Regions from separate parts of the Homo sapiens genome. Here region 2 is linked to region 1. Evidence: fine-mapped expression QTL. Tissue or cell type: whole blood. Region 1 holds a variant in brackets; the other region holds the start of a gene. All regions are shown on one strand. Distances are between the middles of the regions.

Region 1 (10,962 bases):
TTTGAATATACTGAAAAGGGAGAGCCATAAAAACCCACTGTATGAAAAGTGATAAGGTAAAGTTTTAGCTGTAACATGCCCTGTGCCTTTGAGACACATTTTACATGAGGCAAGTTCTGAGGTATACTAAAGACTCCATGATCATCTCCTCACAGTATGTGGATGGAACACATTTGGTTGGCTTGAGATAAAATTACCTGGTCTAATGAAAGATGGTCACCTTCTGCATTTTCTTTTAAATATAGGAATATATTAATTGGAAAATTGTAAATTAAACTGCAGCAACAAAACCAAACCAAAACAATCTATTCAGACTCAGCTTCTGAAACCATGAAGAAACCAGTTACTATTTTCTTTGGAATCTAATGAAAAATAGATTAAGACACCAAGAGCACAGGTCCCTCAACCCAAGTCTTAACAAAGAAAGAATTCTTTTTTCAATATAGTAAAAATCACACCGATGCTTTATACTTCTGAATGCTTTACTAATGATTAAGAAAATGTATAATGCAAAGGATATGGTTAACATACCATGATAGTTAACTTCATGTATCAATTTGGCTAGGCCATGGTACCCAGATATTTGGTCAAACATTACTCTAGATGTTGCTATGAAGCTATTTTTTAAAGATGAGATTAACATTTAAATAAGTAGACCTATTTAAAGTAAATAAAACAGACTACCCCCCATAATGTGGGTGGGCCTCATCCAATCAGTTGAAGGCATTAATAGGAAAACACTGACTTCCTTGGAGGAAAAGGGAGTTCTTCCAGCAGCCAGCCTTCAGACTTGAGTGGCAATTCTTCCCTGGGTCTCCAGGCTGCCAGCCTACCCTGCAGATTTTGGGCTTGCCTCCACAATTGTGGGAGCCAAGTCCTTAAAATCTCTCTATACATCCTATTGGTTCTGTTTCTCTGGAGGAACCATGACTAGTACACATCATGTGGTAGGTTACTACCACTGTTCACCAGTATTTCTGGTTGTCTCTCCTGGGTCCATGAAAGGATTATACTTTTCTGAAAACTTAAAGTAAGCCCTGACCGTGTAACTTGCTTTGCCTAATAATGGGGTAGAAGTGACACTAGCTTTAAGCAAAAGGTTTTAGGAGCCAGGGAGTGATCCTTTCTGCCCTTCCCCTGCCACAGCAGATGCTGATTCCTCAGGTTGAGATGGTGGAAACATAAGGTGCTACCTCCCTCGGCCTGGGCCCCCAGGTGACTGCAATCAGTGGAGTCCCACCTATGGGCCCCTGTGCACATGGAGCATAAGTAAGATCATTAGTTGTTTCAAACCACTGAGATTTGGGGTTTGTGACTAACACACTACTGTGGGCGGGGTATAAGGAGCCCTGTATCCCAGCAACATCCACTCTACCGTACATATTACACATTTTTAATTTTTTCATTTTTCCAAGTTCAATAAAACGTCTATTTGATATAAACACTGAATAGTGACTTGAAATACCGTATGCACATGATGGTAATAAAATTGCCTAAGATTGTTACGTAAACTTTTCATAAACTAACCTCTCCTTTAATCCAAATTATTGGTATATTGCCAAACTCACCAACATCCATCCCATTATAAAACTTGGAATAAATTAAGCCCATGTGAATTTGGACATTTGTGTAACCTAGGCATTGAAAACTAGCCTATCCCAAGTGTTTCAGTGTTTTATATTTCATGAAATTCCTGGAATATGCCTCTGCCTTTCTATCTGCTATAACTCCCAAATTACTATGAAGAAAATCCTTCAGTGCTGCAGATGAGTCAAAATGGGTCTTCAAATAAAAAAAAATCCAACATGACTGTTCAGTTAAACCACACAAAAGCTGGCTTTTCTAGGAGAAGGAAAAAAACAAAGATGGGAGGCTGAACTACCTGGGCCTGTGGGTAAACAGGGCATAGTTACGTTCAGATTTCAGAATTATCCACTCCTGAGTTTATTTGGAATTTCAAGATACGAACATACAGTTGAGATGCTCAAATCCATCTAAAATGTTCAGGTTTTTAAAAGAATTCTTACAATTTTGGCCCAATTTTTTAAAAAAAGGATGGAGGGTACCACTTTCCCCCATAAATACCCAAACCTACAAACTCAGTATGGAAGGTGCAATGTCATATTTCCTTTTTTATCTACCCCCCTAAGGTATAGCACAGTGCCTGCCTACAGCTGTCATCCAATAAATGCCAAACTGATTTCTGCCACCACATTCTGAAATCCCCACTCCCTGGCCACCTCCCGCATCTTTTAAAGGAGGGACTAACAGGTATCAGAGAGGGCTCTCTCCACTGTCCTGTCGTACATGACACATACCACTCTCACCGTCCACTCTTGCATTTTCACCCCCACTCTGGCTAATTGGACTTCAACAGTGAATCTAAGTTAGTCGGTCAACAACAGAGACACAGCTGTACTGCTGTGTACTGGTGGTACAACAGACAGCAGCGACTGGAATTAAGATAGTTGCTGGATATTCAGACCCCAGAGGTCAGGACTAACCCTGCCACTCTTAGGTGGCATCTACCTCCACAATGGTCAGGGGCAAGCTTAGCGAAGACAGGCAGAGACACTCCACTGAGCACACGGCCTCCTGAAACCAGGTCGGTGGGGAGAAAAACTGAAGGTTGTCTTCCTTTCACCAACAATTTCTTTTTGTGGAGAAAAAAAAATTATAGTTAATGCAGTTGGGCTGTGGGGAACAGCAAGGCCACAGCATGGGCTGGGATTTACCTCTGAATCTAAGAGCTAGCCAGTACTCTGGAGGATCATCTGCTCGGAGGACAAAGGTCAGTGCAATCATAGGCGTGTCTGCCCCCAGTAAGGGAACATTCTGGATCTTTGGCCTGGAATGCTGTACTGAGGTCACCCAAGAGTCAGTGATTATCAAAGACAATTTTACCCCCTAGAGGTTGCTTCTATTGTTACAGATTATTATAGCCTCCGGGGCGGTAAGCCTTACACAGCAAGTCCAATGCTGCTGCACTTTTAGACCTTAAGGAAATCCCGTAAGCATTTGTTACTATTATTAATTAAGCATAATTAAGCGCTCCTAGCATGCATTCCATATTGCCTTGAGCAGAAAGCTTCAGATGTAAACCATCTTTCAATAACATTCCCTTCCTGAATGCTGAGATGAGAACATGAAAATCATACCACATGTCTGCCATCTGTATTTGTACTTGTCAACAGCTCTGTTTTGGGATAAACAGTTTTGAAATAAGAATCAATTCGACTTGTTGGAAGATTAGCCAAGGAATAGCTCAAAGACCAAAACAGAAAATGAAGTCAGATAGTCTGAAAATCGAGCACAATTTTGTTTCTCGCTAAACATTCTGTTTTGTCACAGCCCAAGAGAAAGAGTGTGGCAGACAGGGTTTGGGGGCACACAGACAGGGAAAATGTATGTTCTCAAGTAAAAAATTCTTCAACCTGGAACAAATGTCTTCGCTACAATGCAACTAGAAATCATTCACTGACCTCTAGGAGACTACAGTTAAGAACAAAGCAATTTAAGCATTTACACTTTGTTTCATGGTTCTACTATGTGAAGGTATACACAGGGGACAACTTGAGCGGGTTCAAGTGCATAATACAGTCCTTTATTACCATAAAAATGGCAGCACTTCCCAAAGTTGATCTTGATTAAAAGTAGTTCCATGGTTGAAAACAGTACTCCACTGTAGAGCTATTAAACTAGAGAGATGGCAAGGGGAAAATAAAGACTTATATATCAAAGGCGAGGTCAGGGAAGAAGTTAGAAAAAACAGGACGCTACAGATTAGTGGGAGACTACAATGGAATTGCTTTTAGAGGTGGCTGATATAAGTGAATGAAGGGACACAATAACCTGCAGCCCCACATATTCTACAAAACAAATGAGAACATGTATGCTCCACTTGGAGAGCCATCCATTTTCTCCTTAAAAGAACTCATTTATAAAAGAGCAAATTGGTGATTTGTACTTACATACTGGACCTTTTCCAAGCCCCTGTCAAGAAGTGATAAATTATTGAAGCATAGCATAAAGTGTTTTATTTTCAGTGTGCACACGGTAAAACCCTGTGAAATGCTTCTGTTCACCTTTCCCAAGTTATTAATTAAAAAATAATTGTTTCCAATTACTCTCTGATCTTTAAAATAAACCAAGACAAAACACTACATACACCTCTCCAGAATCAGCACTGCCCCTTCCCTCTCTCCTTCTCGATCCTGCCCCCCATCCTTCAACCAAGCAGTTGTTTCGAATCACACCATCGGCTCCTGAAATAGGAATGCTATTTAGATTGGGAAGGGAGGGAAGAGGAAGTCCAATACAACATTCACACAATTGTCTGGTATTCATTCAACCACAGTGCCCAGATATATTTGTTGTTCCTAGAGACAGCGTAAAACTGTTTGGAGAATAAAGCAGGGTTGTGGAAAGCTCATTAATAAATTGTGAAAATCCTCTCAGCAGGAGTCACATAACCAGAGGAGCTGCCTTGTGCCAAGCAACATAAAGCCTGGTGCTCTGCTCCTGGACAATGTCAAAGGCAAATACAGCTGATTTTTGAGAAAGGCCTCCCTACAGCCACTTGCTAGACCAGAGTTAGGAAAAATTCTTTCCCAATCTCAGCTCGGCAATTAGAACCTGAATTATGTTTACAAACTCTAGGCTTTGCTTTAATCTGACTGTGAGAGATGTACAGGAATGGCCCCTCCCCTACTGTGTTCATAAACTGAGAGAATAACGTTGATGCCAATGCTCCTGAAAGGGAGCAGGGAAACCTAAAAAGTCTAATTGCATAAGGAGATGCAGGGGGACCACTGACAGGAGGGCTTTCTCCTCACTGAAATCTTGTTCATCTTTAGGATTTCTCCAGCACCTCAGTTCGAATTCCCACTCCTTATGTGCAAGTGGCACTCTTGGCTTTCCAATTCTGTTTTTTATTTAGGTGACTCAATCAGTGGCTGAACTTCTGATCCTGTGGCCCCTTTTTGTAGCTTCAGACTGAAACTGGATGCCTTTGTAGAACATATTCACGCAAGGATTCTGTATGAACAGAAAAGGATGCAATAAAGGAGGATTCCTCCAAAATGTTTTAATTATATGTCCATACAATATATAAAATATATGCATCATTTTAGCTGGATAAGAAAAGCAAGTCAAATGAAATGACACTTCTCGAAACTTAAGTTAAATAATCTTGTAGGAAGAGGTATATTTTGTCTTTTTTTAATTATTTTAGCATTCTGTACACTGACAACGAGGTAAAAGAAAATGACTGAAACTTACAAGTGAAAGAACATTTCACAATTAAATCCACAATTGTATACATTTATCTTACTCACA[T/C]GTCAGTGAAAAATCACCAACTATTATAAAAAGAGGACAAATTGTATCACAAAAGAAGCAAAAATTAGAAAAAATTCATAAAAAAATATATCCAACTATGAAAAGCGTTGCTCTCTTGGTGTCTTCACATCCGTCTCTTCTGTGTACTGATGTACAACACTGAAAAGAAAAAAATACATAAATTGAAATTTAAAAAACCCTGCTTGTAAGTATACATAGTAGCAAGTTTAAAAGCCAACAGATTTTGGTCTGATACATCTGACATTTAAAAGGAATTCTCGTATCATTCAATTAACTCTAGAAGTACTGTAAGACTAGTTTTATGAATCTACACCCAGGTTTGATGTCTTACAAAACTGTCCTAATTTCATCCATGTGTCTCACTGACTCTTTAAAGTGTGACCAGGAAGATAAAATAAAATATATGTGAAAGTCCCTGGTATCTAAGAATGCTTTATAGTTAGAAGTATAAGAATTATGCTTTTCAGGGCTGAACACGGTGGCTCACGCCTGCAATCTTAGCACTTTGGGAGGCTGAAGCGGGTGGATCACTTGAGCTCAGAAGTTTGAGACCAGCCTGGGCAACATGGTGAAACCCCGTTTCTACCAAAAATACAAAAAATTAACCAGGCATGGTGGTATATGCACTTGTAGTCCCAGCGACTTAGAACGCTGAGGTGGGAGGACTGCTTGAGCTTGGGAGGCAGAGGCTGCAGTGAGCTGAGATTGCACAACTACACTCCAGCCTGGGCCACAGAGCGAGACTTCATCTCAGGAAAAAAAAAAAAAAAAAAAGATGCTTTTCAGAAAGTAAATCAGTAAATCTAACCAGGCTAGATCTCAAATTAAGAATAAACAACATATTTTCATCTGTCTCCCCAATACAAACTCTAAACTTGCTGTTTACCTTCTTAAATGCAACAGGATAAACAAGAGCTAAGGAGTTTATTTTTTATTTTTATTTTTTAATGATACCAAAGTCCTTATTCTGAGTTCCCGTTAAAAGTCTCATACTTTGGTGTTACCTAATGTTCTGCTTAGTGGTCTTCTCATGACTACCAACATGAACTCGTAGGATGTGTGGTCCGTAGGAATGAAACAAAATGAAATGCTTGGGTCACTTTGGCCAAACTAGAGGTGGTTCTCCCTTCCACCTTCCATGCCTACTCGGCTTCTGAGAGGTCTGCTCAAAGCGAACAGTAAGGTGTCTTCATCAAAGAACATAGCACAGATGAATCAAATAAGTCAAGATCCTCTTTAAGAGCCAATGATGTGAACTTGGGAGTCTAAAGATGAGTGTCACTGATTACATCATGGGAAATGTGACATGAAGGGAAGCATCAGAATGCCAGTACAGCCGCCCCCCAACCCTGCCCCCCAAGTCCTAGGGGTAGTGTGCACGTTAAAGGATCTACCCTATCAACACGCACAGAACCCAACCTGCCAGTGACTGCTGCCATTAGCTGTCTTGAGGTGAGACAAGATCATAACATTTCTTAGGAAAAAGAGGAGGTCAAATAAGGATATGAAAAATAGGATAAATAATTCTATAAATAGAAAGGACTAGAAAGCCAGGAAATAATGTATGTAAAAATATGATATGAAGAAATAAGGTCCTGTAAGCATAGGGGACAGACTCTTATTATAAAAGTCAGGAAGTTTAGTTTATAGCAAAGAGATCCAACTATTTAGGGGGTTGAAGACATCCAGAATTAAAGAAATCAACAAAAAATCTGAACTCAAGAATCCCAGAGTTTCTGGGAGATGGAACCAAAAAGTGGGGTAATTCTCATAATTCTGATATCTTTCCCTCCCCACCAAAAATACAAATATGACTTTATTATAATTTTCATTTTTAAACTAGGTACTTAAAAATAACTATAAAAATCATAGCAATTTATTAGTTGTTAAAAACTGAGTAACTTTTTCTATTTTGCCATTTTTGCCAAACTGAAGGATGCAAATCTGCATAGAAAGCATCTGAATGTTTAATAGAGAAGGGACAAATAGGACGAACTGCCAAATTATGCAAATCAAAGACAGCAGGGAAACGGTGCCCATTCTTACATCTCCAACTTCCAGGCTACAAGAAGCAGGAATATGTGTTGGGGAGATATACTACACTATATTCGAGAAAGCAGGGTTCCAGGTAAGGAGAACAATGTCCCTCAGTTCCTCATCACTAAAGGAAGGGAAGGAGAGAATTTTGGTTTCAAAATTCCATGAAGCATCTACAAAATAACTGGTCAAACTGAAGATCTGACATATAAGCATTTTAAAATAATCAAGCCTAAAAGTGGACTTTTAAATTATCTAGAAACCTCTTTGGTGATCTGGATTATAAATAGAAAGGCTTATTTTGAATGCTGTACTGTAGGGCGAAGAAATGTTACCATTGTTTCCTCGGATAAATGCATCCCCATACTTATTCTTCAGTTGTCCATTTACATATTCTTCTGTCTGCTCCAGGGCTATATTCATGTAGCCATCCAGGCAAGCCAGGACCCCTGCAGACATATTTAGTCAAAAAGAAGATACACAAGGCAAATAAGAGTTGAAAATTACAGGGTATACCTTAGAGCAGACAATCTCTTTATTCATTAGTTCTTAGATGCTTAATATAAAAATTCACACCATAAATGAAACTCAACAGCTTAAGCACAAAACAACTCTATGCCAATCTGAATGAAGTCTAGGAAGGCAGTCACGCACCCACTACTACCCGGTAAAACAACAAACTGTCACTTCCCTCATGGTACGTATGACCACACAGAAACTTTTAAAGCATTCAAAAAAGTAAGAGAATAAGACTATTCCGGCAAAAATACCATTCTTTGAAAGCTAAGCACAAGGTGGGCAATTATGCATAAACAAATGATCCTTGGTTCCAGTGGCATTTCCTACTTTAGCCACTAAGTGAAATACGGGTCTGGCAGATTTATTTCATTCTTTTACAACATCTATTGCAGCAGATGAATGTACTCCAGGGTTAAAAGGAAGTCTCCACAATCTGTTAAAATAATAGAAGAGGAGACAGCAGGTGCTCCCGAAAGAACATCTTAAAGCTGTGACTCACAGTGAAGAGCAGCTTGAGAATATAGGGCAACATATTGCATTATAACACATCTTGTTCTGTTTTGTTACAGCTATAATATTTTCCAATCAAAACTAATAGAGAAAATGGCCAAAAACATTCGAGGGAGCTTTCAAGGAAACAGTTTGAGTCAATCTTTAATTGTGTTAAGATGGTATAAATTTTGTAAAATTTGACCTGATGATCTTTTTCAAAAGATGAAAATCTGTAAGCCTCTAATTCTGTCTCTAATTTAAAGTGGTATTTCCTAGAAAAAAAAATTTAAGTAAAAACAAATACTAGATTCAATTCAGTCGAGTCTATAGTTTCTCATTTGATGTCTTAACTTCATTAATATGCTCCTCACTCTCTGCCTCTGCCCCCATTATCCTCTAAACAAAAAAGTTTCCTTTCAAAATTGTGTAATGACAGCAAAAGACATTAATCTACCAGAATTCTGCTAAAAGCGGTAAACTCTCAAAGAACGAGAATGGACTGTGAATAATAAAATTATTTCCTAGCAAAAGAAAGCTTAAGCTACAACTTTAGCTCGTTTCCTGCTGTACTATTTTACATACAAACTGCAATTATAAATGAGCAAGAAAAATCTGAGGCACAATATGCAAACCTGTTTGAAAACCAATGAAAAGAATTTCAAAATGAAATGTCCAGGCTGGGCAAAGTGGCTCATGCCTGTAATCCCAGTACTTTGGGAGGTAGAAGCTGGCAGATCACTTGAGGTCAGGAGTTCAAGATCAGCCTGGCTAACATGGCGAAACCCCGTCTCTACTAAAAATACAAAAATTAGCCAGGCATGGTGGCAGGTGCCTGTAATCCCAGCTACTTGGGAGGCTGAGGCAGGAGAATCGTCTGAACTTGGGAGGCGGAGGTTGCAGTGAGCCAAGACTGAGCCACTGCACTCCAGCCTGGGCGAAAGAGTGAGACTCGGTCTCAAAAAAGAAAAAAGAAAAAAAAAAAAGAGTTCACTTCTAATTAAAATATCTATTCTCACAGCAAAGGCAAAAACAAACAAACAAACAAACAAGCAACAACAACAACAAAAAAACTGCCCAGGGGGTTAGAAATACAACCCTTTCCTTCCATGAGATAAACTACTATACAAAACCAAAAACAAGACATTTTCTCAAAGAGAAACTGCTACAGAGAGTTGCTGGAGTTTTTCTTTTTTTTTTTTTTTTGGTATGTTGTTGTTTTGCTTTGGGGTTTTTTGGGGTTTTGTAAACCACAAAATAAGCACGTTCCTTTAGTAAGGCTATCTAATAGTATAAAACATTTTGCTTTAATAGTATAAAGGCCATTCATAAGAGGAAAAAAAATTATGGTTACTATCCATGTGAAAGACTCCTGAATCTCACTAGTAAACAAAGAAAATATATGTAGAATGAGATATTACTTGTTGCCAATTAGATTGGAAAAGATGAAAAAAAGCTAATACAAGAGTTGGTGAGAACATGAAGGATAAACCCAAGTTCCCTGATGCAGGGCCATGGAATACTCTCTGACTTGTAAATCCTAGCCCAGGGAATTGATTCTAAAGAGATGTTTGGTCAACTTCACAATATATGTCAAAGTAGAAGAGTTGTTTATAGTGGCAAAAAACTGGTCAACACCTAAATGTCCATTAATAGGAAATTGGTTAACAGTAAAAGCAAAACCATGGTACAGCCACACAAGAGATTCCTATGCAGCCATTAAACCCTCTATATTATTACAAAACTAAATGTACTGTTTCAACGTTTAAAAAAAAAATCAGGTTGCATGTAGTTGACTCCATTTATGTCAAATTATGCTAATATAGAGGTCAAAATTGGTAAACTGTCTCTGGATAGTAGCATTGGGGATCCTTGGCTTTCTTCTATATACTTTTCTGTATTATTTCCTTTTACATTTCTAAAATTAAAACAAAACTAAAACATGTATTGCCTTTATAAATAGAAAAATTTTCCCTAAAGAGTACAGAGAAAAAAGGTCAGGCTGGTTCATCTCTTCAATAAAGTGGGTACTGAGAAGACATTGAACACAATGTCCTCACTTTAATCAACTGTCAAACAGATTAAAACCCCTAGAAGTCTATTACTTCCTATGGGCCCATCATCAAAAGTTCGCAGGTGAGAGGCAGTACACGGAGACATTATACTACCTCAGTATTCCGTATGAATCCATTAATTTTACTATAAAAATAAAATTAAACTGGAGATACGTTATTAATGTCAAGAAGCTAAAGGAGTACATAATCACCAGAGTGGTTTCTTAACAAGGCTTATGAGCCGAGCCTGAACTTGAGTCCTAGCTCCTCCTCTACTAGGTGGGGATAATCAATAGAGATTTCAAAGGAAAAAGCTCAAGAGATTACTATGACTATTAATTATTCAGAAAAGAGACCAAAAAAAGGCCACAAAAACCTGTGCTATGGTTTGAATGTGTCCCCTCCAAAATTCAGGTGTTTGGCAATAGGAGAGTATTAAGAGGTGGGGGCCTTTAAGAAGCAAGCAGACCATGGGGACTTGCCCATTAATGGGATGAAGGCCTGC
Region 2 (10,962 bases), 25 kb before region 1:
AATTTGAGATCTCACTCACATATGCTTAAATGCATGGAAAACTTCTGAAAAGAGGTGCAAGAAACTTAACAAAGGTTACCTCTGGGGAATCAAATTGAGTGTTCAGAGCCAGAGAAGGAAAAGTACTTTTAATTTTCTACCTTTTGATAGTATTCTAACATTTTTAAAGCATGTAATATCTTCAAGCTATTTAAAATTTTTTTTAAAAAAGCCACTCATGTTCAAGGGAATGAGTGGCTAAAATCAGGGTCAGACCTTTATAAGTTTGCTAAATGCAGCTTGGTGTCTAGGATTGTTTTATTTTCCACACATTTGAACTTTTCTTAATAAACATTTGAACAAATATTTAGAACTATTGAACACCAAGCACTATGCTAGGAGTTGAGTATGTATCTATGAGCAGGATAACATGGTCCTTACCTTCAAGGAGCTCACAGATCCCGGCAAGAAAACAGTATACTTGCAACGTAAGTCAGTAATAACTGACTCTCATTGAATCCATGAGGCACTCTGTCAAGTCATTTATTACATATGCTGTCTTGGTTCCAGTTACAATCCAATTGTGTTTCCCTCAGGATACCTTCAGAATTTAGGTATCACAATATTTTTAGTTATTTCTGCAGATTTTTCTCACTGACATAGTGGTTTTTTGGTTTGGGGTTTGTTTGTTTGTTTGAGACAGAGTCTCACTTTGTCACTGTCACCCAGGCTGGAGTGCAGTGGGGCTATCTCAGTTCACTGCAACCTCTGCCTCCTAGGCTCAAGCAATCCTCCCACCTCAGCCTCCAGTGTAGCTGGGAACACAGGGTACAAGCCACCATGCCTGGCTAATTTCTGTATTTTTTTTGTAGGGACAGGGTTTTGCCATGTTGCCCAGTCTGGTCTCAAACTCCTGAGCTCAAGTGATCCACTCACCTTGGCCTCCCAAAGTGCTGGGATTACAGGCATGAGCCACCATGCCTGGCTGACATAGTGTTTTGATTCTTACCGTTGTTATTCCCCTAGCCACAGAACACTAGGATACTGACATACCAATCCCTTCATGCTGGGAGGGGCTGGATGCACTCTAGGGTGGATGGAGCCCCCAAAGAAGTGGCCTTCCTTGGGGAGCCTCTTGCATTTGCCCCGGTGTGCTAAATACACAGACTCACTTTCTGTGTCATGATGTGACAAAGTTTGGGAAGCTCTATTAGAATAGACTTAATTCAGTATATTGGGGAGTATATTGATGTTGAACTCATATACTATCCACCCATGTTTTTTCACACTTCTCAAGAGAGCGAAATGAATGGGTAAAACAATATTTATAGAGTAAATTTCATTTTTGTTTATCACCTTTAGTTCCTATCAAAAGAATCAGCAAAAATCAAGAGGGGTTTAGGGCAAAAGTTGCTGATGTGTTGGAGCTCACCTTGGGTGCATAGTTCTCTGCCTACACTTCGTGGCATCTGAAGTATCTGTAGCTTCCTTCTCTGCTGTCCCTCACTGCCACTTCCAAGCTTGGTCCAAGGTAAGCTGTGGACTCTGAAGAGTGTGTGTGAGTTTGGGGAGTGGGGGCGGGGCATGGAGGTAGAAACACCCCTGGTGGGGGCAACCCGAAACTGGTAAGTTCCCTGCCCCTGCATCTTCCTGAGAGATGATTCAGAGGTGTTTCACATGGCTTCTCAGAGGGTCCCCACTGGAATGCACCTCGGTTGCCCACAGCAGAGACCTGCTCAGTTGCACGCCCTTGACTGGCATCTCCTCTTGCCCAGCTCCCTTTCCCTCTTCCTCACCTGTGTTTCCTGGGATGATCTCTCACATAAACCACCTGCGCTCACGTTCTTTCCCTGCTTTTATAGGCACCTAAACTAAAAGAACAGGAAATGATTTTTTCATCCCCCAATATTTTAATTTAAAAAATGTCAAATTGTATATATTTAAAGTATACAACATGATGTTTTGATATACTTACACATAGTGAAATGGTTACTATAGTCAAGCAAATTAAAATATCCATCATCTCACCAAAGTGTCTGTTGATGGATGAATTTTAGTTTTAAATAATGAGAAAAAAGTGTATTTCACACACATAGATGATACATGAAGGTTGTTCAGAGTAACTATATTTGTGTCCGTAATAAGATACATTTATATCTTATGGTAAGGACAAAATAATTATCTATAATAATATTTGTGTCTTCTTATACAGATCACAATTAATACAGAGATTAGTTATCATGTGGTTTTTATGACACAAATATTTTATGCTTATTTTTAACCTGATAATTGCTTCTTAAGATTAAGCCAGGCTGGGCATGGTAGCTTGTGCCTGTAATCCCAGCACTTTTGGAGGCTGAATCAGGAGGTTCACTTGAGCCCAGGAGCTCGAGACCAGACTGGGCAACATACAAAGACCCTGTCTCTAAAAAAAATACAAAAAATTAGCAGGGCACAGTGGCATGTGCCTGTAGTCCCAGCTTCTTGGGAGCCTGAGGTGGGAGGATCACTTAAGCCCAGGAGTTTCAGACCAGCCAGGGCAACACAGTGAGACTCCATCTCTACAAAAAACAAAAAAAAGGGATTAAGCCAAATTTAGTCCAGGAAGCTTCTGACTGGGACAAACACAAACTGGAAGGTCCATGGGGGCTCTGGGGCTCCTCGGAGTCTCTCTAAGCCTCTCTGGTACATACCTGGAATCTTGTCACCTGGTGCATAGGAAGTCCTGTGGGTGTGGATGGTGATGTGGTGGCTGTCCTGGTGCTGAGGCTGGGCTTGGATGTGCTTGGGCTGCATGTCATCACAGGCCACCGTGCTGGCACCATGGGAAAAGGCAGATGAGCAGGAAGCCAGGCAGAGGGTGGTACAAGCCCAGCCCACGAGGGCAGCCTGCATCCTCATCCTGCCCTCTCCTGTATCATGACAAACAGCAGCTTCAGTCCAGACGTTATTTAGGAAAACGACATAAAGTCTTCTCGGGATGTGACTAACCTGAACCCCACACTGCCTCTGTACCTGAGATGCTTTTAGTGCAGCCTCCCAGGATTGCTAATGTTCAAGGCCAAGATCAAAAGGAAATGCCAGGCTATAGGAAGTGTTTCATTTCCAAACACCTTTTTAAAAACTTCTGTTCTTGTAATTTTCTCATAAGACCAGACTGCTTTTTTTGTTGTTGTTCAAAAGAGAGGCTTTAATTATTGAGTCAAAGAAATAAAACCAGAAAATGTTTGTATCCTAGCGTGAGCTCCTTGCAAGCTGACTGGTACCCAAAGGCGGTGTGGCCTCTGATACATTATCTGAAGTAGACACTCAATACACCACCATGGTCAGGCAGCATGGCATGGGATGGCTTGGCTGAGCATCTTATCTCTGTTGCAATTGAAAATTACCAAGTTAAGTGCTACAAAACATCTACCAACTATCAATTATTTAGAAGTGACTGTTAAGCTGGCAATGCTTTGATATCTCTTTGCCCTTTCTTTGGCTGTTTTTAGCTATTTCACTACTTTTAGTAAAGAAGATGAGCAGAGAAAGAAATACTCAATTTATTCTATAACTTCTTAAACATACTGATAACAATTTTGGCTCAGGAATAGAATACAATGATTGAATAAAATAGCATTTATAGAGTAAATTTTATTTTTGTTTACTACCTCTAATTCCCATCAAGAGGAAGAATTAAAATTTGGCAATGTAAAAGAAGATGACAAAAATAAAATGAGAGATAGCAAACAAGGCAGATGAAAATCTGCCTACATAAATATTTAGGATTATCACAGGCATTTTTTAACAGTTCTGTTTTAGGCCAGGTGCGGTGGCTCACGCCTGTAATCCTAGCACTTTGGGAGGCCGAGGCAGGTGGATTGCGTGAGCACAGGAGTTCAAGACCAGCCTGGGCAATACGGTGAAACCCTGTCTTTACTAAAATACAAAAAATTAGCTGGGTGTGGTGGCATGTGCCTATAGTCCCAGCTACTCGGGAGGCTGAGGCAGGAGAATTGCTTGAACCTGGGAGACCAAGGTTGCAGTGAGCTGAGATCATGCCATTGCACTCCAGCCTGGGCAAAAGAGCGAGACTCTATCTCAAAAAAAAAAAAAAAAGTTCTGTTTTTTTTTTTATAGTCCTGCACACAGGCATTTTAGAAGTTTGGCTAATTTTTTGACCTAAGGAACAATGCAAGGCAAAAAAAAAAAAAAAAAAATGCCCTCCCCTGTAGTCAGCTGGTTTTAAAAGGTGAAAATAAAATCCTGAAAATGTAGTAAAACTAGCTATCAGAACAATAGACTAAGGAAATAATCCATAAACCAAATAATCAAGTGTCCTCCACTCCCATTGTCTCTTCACACAACACCACCTTTTACATTCACAAGCTAAAAGAAGACAGGAATATGATCTATACCTCAAATTTCTTAGACATAAGAGTCCTTCAGACAATGCCTTTCTTTTCTAAGTTTGTTTTCTATGAAGCACCAAAGTCACACATCTCCATACTACAAGGAACCATGGCTACAGCTTCTCAGACACATTAGGAGATAATGAAGATGAACTGTGTAAAAGCACATTCTCAGTCAAGGGGGCTCAGGGTTCTTCTCATTTTCTTTCATAAGGGCCACATACAAAATGCCCCTTGAATGCTGGGCATGGTGGTGCGCACCTATAGTTCCAGTTGCTCAGGAGGCTGAGGCAGGAGGATCACTTGAATCCAGGAGGTCGAGGCTGCAGTGAGTTATGATCACATCACTACACTCCAGCCTGGGTACAGAGCAAGACCCTGTCTCTTAAAAGAAAAGAAAGAAATGAAATGAAAATGCTCCTCAAGTCCTTGCTGATGGCAAGTGGTCTTTCCAAAGGCAGATCAGACACAGTTGCCTACAAGGGAAGGGGAGTGAGTGCCTGGACTCACAGACTACGGCCACAGCCCCACCTCCCACCCTCCTGCCTTAGGTTTCACTGTGTCTTCTTTCCCACTAGCATCTTGTCTACCTGAACCCTGAAAACTATCCACTTGGAGCTGAGCATGGTGGCTCACACCCGTAATCCCAGCACTTTGGGAGGCCGAGGCAGGAAGATCACTTGAAGCCAGAAGTTCAAAACCAGCCTGCGCATCACAGGGAGACCTTGTCTCTACAAAAATAAATAAATAAAAACATCCACTTACCTAGGAACACAGTTTTCTTCAGGCTTGATAGAATGGCTTCCTCCCGCAGAGTTGCAAACACATCCCTTAAACATAAGTATTTTCTTCTCCTTTCAGTTTTTCCTCTAATGGGGAGAATAACAGCTGCTACCACTAATCCTCAGCATCTCCAGGAACTGTTCCTCAGTGTCCAAATCCAACCTAAATCGTATTAGCACACACATACACACACACACACACACACACACACACACACGGTTTACAGTCACATCATTGTTCAAGCCTGCGTGAAGAACTAGAAAGAACCGGAACTGGTTTTGCACAGGACTGGCACTGACATCCTTGGCAGAAGCTGGATGCCTCCATCTTGATCTCCCTGCAAAGGGGAGAATGTTTGAATGAAATGCATCTCAGCATTCTTGGCTTCTTGAGTCAGTGTGGACTGAAGTTACTCTTGGTGAAATAGAATTGATACGTTAGCCCAAGAGCAACGTTTGGTACAAAAAAATAACACGTGGCATAGGCACCTCCCGTATCAATTGCACTAAAGCTGGAGTTCACATTTTCATTCATCTAAGAATCTGCTGAGACACCTGATAATACCAGAGAGCCTATAGATCAGTGTTCCTCAATGTGTGGTCCCTAGAGTGCAACACCAGCATCACCTAGAAGCTTGCAACATTAACAATGAAGAAAAAGAGAGAGGAATGGATTTGGGAGATCAGGAGATCAGGTGGAGGTAGGATTTGGTGGCTGTTTGAATGCAAGGCGTCCAAGAGAGAATCCTAGGATTGATAGTCCTGGGTGATGTGGAGTAGGGGGCTGCAGAGAGAGCAATGTTCTGACTGTTAGGCCTTGTCTCCACTCAGAAAAAACTAAAGCTATGAGTGACTGAATAGGCAAGGCACTGGCTTAGGGACCAGGTTGCTAAGCCTTTTGTTGCAAGTGTAAATGAGACTATCTATCCTATAAACACCAAGGGAAATTGGGCTTCCTTGGCCTAGGATACCAGTATTCCCCACACACAGAACAAAAGCAAACAAATTCAATTTGGTTTCTCTAAGCTTCTATCCCACTAGGATTGGAGGCAATCTCAATCTCCCACTGAGTCATGAGAAATTCTGGGAGGTCTAGAAAATTAGGATACATTCCTTCCATGGCTGCTGTTATGATAGTTTTCAGAGCTCATGTGGTCACTTGAAGACTGTTAGTTGGAAGGCTTCTATGCCAAAAAGGGGCTCAGGTCTTCAGCAAGGCTGTGGCCTGGGTTCTTCCCACCCCCTCCACTGGGTCCTGACACAGATCTCTGCCCCTAGCAGGAGAGTGGCTAACCTCTTCTCCACTCCACTCTGCTCCTATCCCAGTCTTAGAGACAAAAGTGTCCCTCCTCTCCTTTTTTTTTTTACTCTCACCCCATTACCCTGGGCCACCTGGCATAATCCACCTACCACAGGTAGAGTGGTAATCTCCAACACCTCAGCTTTGCCCCTGAAACACAAACTCCCTGGATATACGGATTCTCAAAAGGCCCAACTACCAATTAGAATGAGGAGAGGAGTGCAAAGGTAGAGAGAGCGCACCTGCATGGCTCAATAAATAATCCTGCCATTTGCTCATGTAATATTTCTTGTTGAAAATCAGGAGGACACCATATCTTAGACATGGCCTTATCCTGCCTGCCACACCCACAGCCTCTGCTGAGCCGGCAGCGCATCTTATGCCACTCTCCCGACAAAGCTGATTGTACCAGGGGGGCATTCATCACAGGCGAGGGCCCTGCTGACTCAGGGCTGAGACAGAAACTCTCCCTGGGAATCTGACCAAGAACACATACAAGGCTACTCTATACGAGTGCTGGCCAATAGAAATAGAATGCAAGCCACATATGTAATTTAAAATTTTCTAGGCCGGACGCAGGGGCTCACGCCTGTAATCCCAGCACTTTGGGAGGCCAAGACAGGCAGATCACCTGAGGTCAGGAGTCCAAGACCAGCCTGGCCAACATGTTGAAACCCCATCTCTACCAAAAAATACAAAAATTAGCCAGGGATGGTGGCACGTGCCTGTAATTCCAGCTACTCTGGAGGCTAAGGCAGGAAAATTGCTTGAACCTGGGAGGTGGAGGTTGCAGTGAGCTGAGATCTTGCCATTGCACTCCAGCCTGGGCGACAGAGTGAGACCCTGTCTCAAAAACAAACAAACAAAAAAATTGGACTCTCCTTATTTTTAAAAAACGTGAAAAGGAACAAAAGACATTTGTTTTAATAATAAATTTAGTCAATTCAATATATTGAAAACATTTCACATGCAATCAGCATATAAAATATCATTAGTGAGATATTTTGCATTCTTTTTTTCACAGTAAGTCTTTGATATCCAGTGGTATTTTACACTTACAGCACGTCTCAATTCAGACTAGACACATCTCAAGTGCTCCGGAGCCACATGTGGTAAGCTGCTACCATATTTATCAGCGCAGGTCTGTACAAAGGAAGGTGGTTGAGCCATAGGTCATGGTGTGGGGTCAGACCTGAGGCCGTATTGTACCACGTGCAGGATGTGTAAGAGGCATTGAGGGGACAGGATAGTAATTAAACATAACAGCATATTTATATAATGCCTGCACAGTACCACACACTATTCTAGTCAGCTAGTTGGCAAATTACCTCATCGATACAGCAACACAATGAGGTCTGCACTATTGTTATCTCATTTTATGGATAAGGAAACTGAGTCACAGTGTTTCTGTAACTTGCCAAAAGTTCCCACAGCATTCAGGAAGTGATAGATAAGGTTTTTCCCTACAGTTTTGCTATAGAATAGCTTTGTAACATAATCTACAAGATGAAGATAACTACCAGTTCCTGTACCTGCATCCCGAAGTGCTGGTGAAGTTTCAGTGAGGTAATAAATAATAAGGAGTTGGTACTTAGTATGGGGTTTGAGACAAAGGAAGGGCTCTGTACCTGTTTTGTCTGGGGAAAGAGAAAGCTGGCTGAGCCACAGAGAGGGTTGGTGCCCACCACGGAGAGGAGGCGGTGAGAGAGTGTGGCTCTGAGCCAGATCATGCGCTAAGCCCGAAGCCCGAGAGACAGCAGTGAGTTGGCCTCCAATCCCCACCCACATGAAGGAGACCCAGCTGTGTGCACCCGGAAAGCAAGAAAATACTGTGTTTTGTTTGTTTGTTGCTTTTATTTTGGGAATCTGCTTGAGGTCATTTCACACTAGCAATTTGGCTGGACTTGATATATTAACATGATTGAATCTGTTACCTTAACATCCCCTGGCCCTGAGTAGAACAGTTAATATTAACGTCATACCAAGGGAAAGTCTTGGGGTGGGTTTTATGGTTATAAATCAGATACTCTGTGTCCTTCGGTAAATCACTTAACTTCTCTGGGTTGCCTCAGGTATAAAATAAAAAGGTTTGAATTAAATAATCTCTTCTATTTCTTCCAGCAAGAAAATGATACACATTTTCAAGGTTTTATTTTAGTTATAAAGGCATAAGAATGAGCTACTCTTAAAACAGCTTGAGATGGCATGCATTAAAGTCTGGCACGTAATTATAACCTGCGTTGACACCATCCCACACTCACTCCTGGTTTAAGAGTCTGCCTTGGAAAAGTTTGCAAATGAAGGAGGAACCTGTTGAGCTCACTATTCTAGTCCTGTTTCCTGCTCCTTCACTCCAGCAGACAAGTGGACATTTTCTTCATTTTCAAAGATCTTGGAGATGAAGATAATGGCTTTTGTAACTCATGAACAGTCTTTCCTATCCAAATGTTTTTCCTACCTTGGTAATGACTTCCTGCTGAGATTGACTGGTGTTTTTACATAGAAATCTGCTATTCCAGTATCATCATTGTGATTAGCATTTTAATGTTTAGATAGATTTTTTAAAACTATCTGAAGATTTCTGGAGTGCTGGGATAATCTATGTAAGAGAAAAATACAATTCTCTTTAAACTCTACATGAAAGTGGGAAGTCAATGGTCATTCATGTACGTTTAGCAGGTCTGCTGACTTTTGCATCATCCTCCATGCTACTGTGCACTTTCTGCCATTTAAAAAAAAAAAGTTGAGTGCCTTTTTTTTTTCTTTTGAGACAAGGTCTCACTCTGTCATCCAGGCTGGAGTGCAATGGTGCAATCACAGCTCACTGCAGCCTCAACTCCCAGGCTCAGGTGATCCTCCAGCCTCAGCCTCCTGAGTAGCTGGGAATATAGGCATGTGCCACCACTCCTGGCTAATTTCTGTATTTTTTGTAGAGATAGAGTTTCACCATATTGCTTAGGCTAGTCTCAAACTCCTGTTTGGGCTCAAGCAATCCTCCTGCTTCTGCCTCCCGAAATCTTGGGATTACAGGTGTGAGCCACTGTGCCCAGCCTAGTGCTTTTATTCTACCCAATAATCCTCTCCTTCATTATCCCTGTTAAAGAACAGTACAGTCAAACAGGATTTCTAAGTTAATTAATATTTGAATTCTTACTATTTGTAAAGCAACTTGCAAGAGAGTCTGCTGATAAAGTATCGGCAGGATCTTCTCCCTAGGAACTGACATTTTACTTGGGGTGAGGTAGCAAGGTAAAGAAGAAAGAGCTCTGAAGTCAGACAGCAAACTAGTTACATGACCTTGGAAAGTTAATGCTGGTGAGCCTCAGTTTTACCATCTGCAAAATGGGGAGACTATTAGATTTCTCACAAAGGTGTTGTAAGGATTAGATGCTCTCTAGCAGTGATGCAGAGCAGTAAACAAGCTATGATCAGAAGAGAGATAAAAGCCAGGTTACCAGAGTCTGGGATGCCAGAATATTTCAAGTAGAATCAGGAAAATATGGTTGATTTTAGAGGTTAGGTGGAGTTTAGACAGATGAGATGGGTAAAAGGATATTCAAAGCAGGAGAGAGAGTTTGAACAAAGGTGTGAACACTAGCTGTGTTTGTAGTAATTATCCAGACATAAAATGAGGTGCATTTGACGCAGGATAGTGGGGACTGAGATGTTGAGAGAGTAAATGGAAGTAAGACTTGGAGACCTTTTGTATGGAGGCAAAGTGGGGATCAAAAATTGGCATTTAGGGAGTCTGGACAAGTACTATAATTTATGTCCAAAAGAGGGGAGTTGGTGGCATTCAATTTTAGTTACACTGGAAATGTACTCTGAGCATTTATTCATTCCTTCAGCCAACCTTTATTAAATGCCTACTAAGTGCAGGTCATGGGCTCTGGGCAGGGGATATAAAGATGAATAACACATAGTCTTCACTCCTCCAGGGCTGGTAAAGCAGAGCAATGCATCAGCAGATAATTGCAAAACAACGAGATTCATGATTAGAGAAATATGATCATGTATCGTTATAGCAGGACAGAAAAAGCATTACCTGGAGTTGATTAAGAGGCTCTTTTTCCCTTTTCAAAGCCTAAACATTCATATCTTGTGACTGCATGCAAAAATGAACCTCAAAGATTGGCATTGAATAATTCTGGGGACTTCTATTATACGTATATGAATGTTTTATCGTATCTTTTTAGGATCCTACACCATGTATACCCTTTATCCTTGTGTAGGCACTTGATCCCATACACCGCCCTGGATTGCAACTGATCAGCTTTAAGTGTGCCATCTTTCCTACTGACCTAGCTCTAAATCCCTGTAGGGTAGGAATTGTCTTAAAATTGCCGAGCTTGGATGCGTAGCACAGCACTATGAACATCGTAAGTTATCTGTGAAATAATGTAGCATAGACCTACGCTAAAGAAGACAAAGGAACATGGATCTCTCTGTTCAGAACTCTATGTGTTCCACTTATTTTAATGCATCCTTTTTCCAACCTTTCCAAGGA

Evidence for each region. PIP is the estimated chance that this variant, and not a neighbour inherited with it, causes the effect.
Region 2: it holds the start of REELD1, and the variant in region 1 is fine-mapped to the expression of REELD1 in whole blood (TOPMed, PIP above 0.99).

Annotation. Positions count from the first base shown.
Region 1 is chr4:146,184,156-146,195,117 of GRCh38, reverse strand. It overlaps LSM6 (LSM6 homolog, U6 small nuclear RNA and mRNA degradation associated), which reads right to left. Exons shown (of 4, transcript NM_007080.3): 3 at 7,731-7,844; 4 at 3,583-5,496. The coding sequence ends at 5,462. Among named protein-coding and RNA genes, the nearest start is that of LSM6, 14 kb to the right of the region's middle. The variant T/C (reference allele first, on the strand shown) is at 5,338.
Region 2 is chr4:146,208,871-146,219,832 of GRCh38, reverse strand. REELD1 (reeler domain containing 1) reads right to left here and starts at 5,295. Exons shown (of 8, transcript NM_001354631.1): 1 at 5,139-5,295; 2 at 4,635-4,757; 3 at 2,673-2,891. The coding sequence starts at 2,880.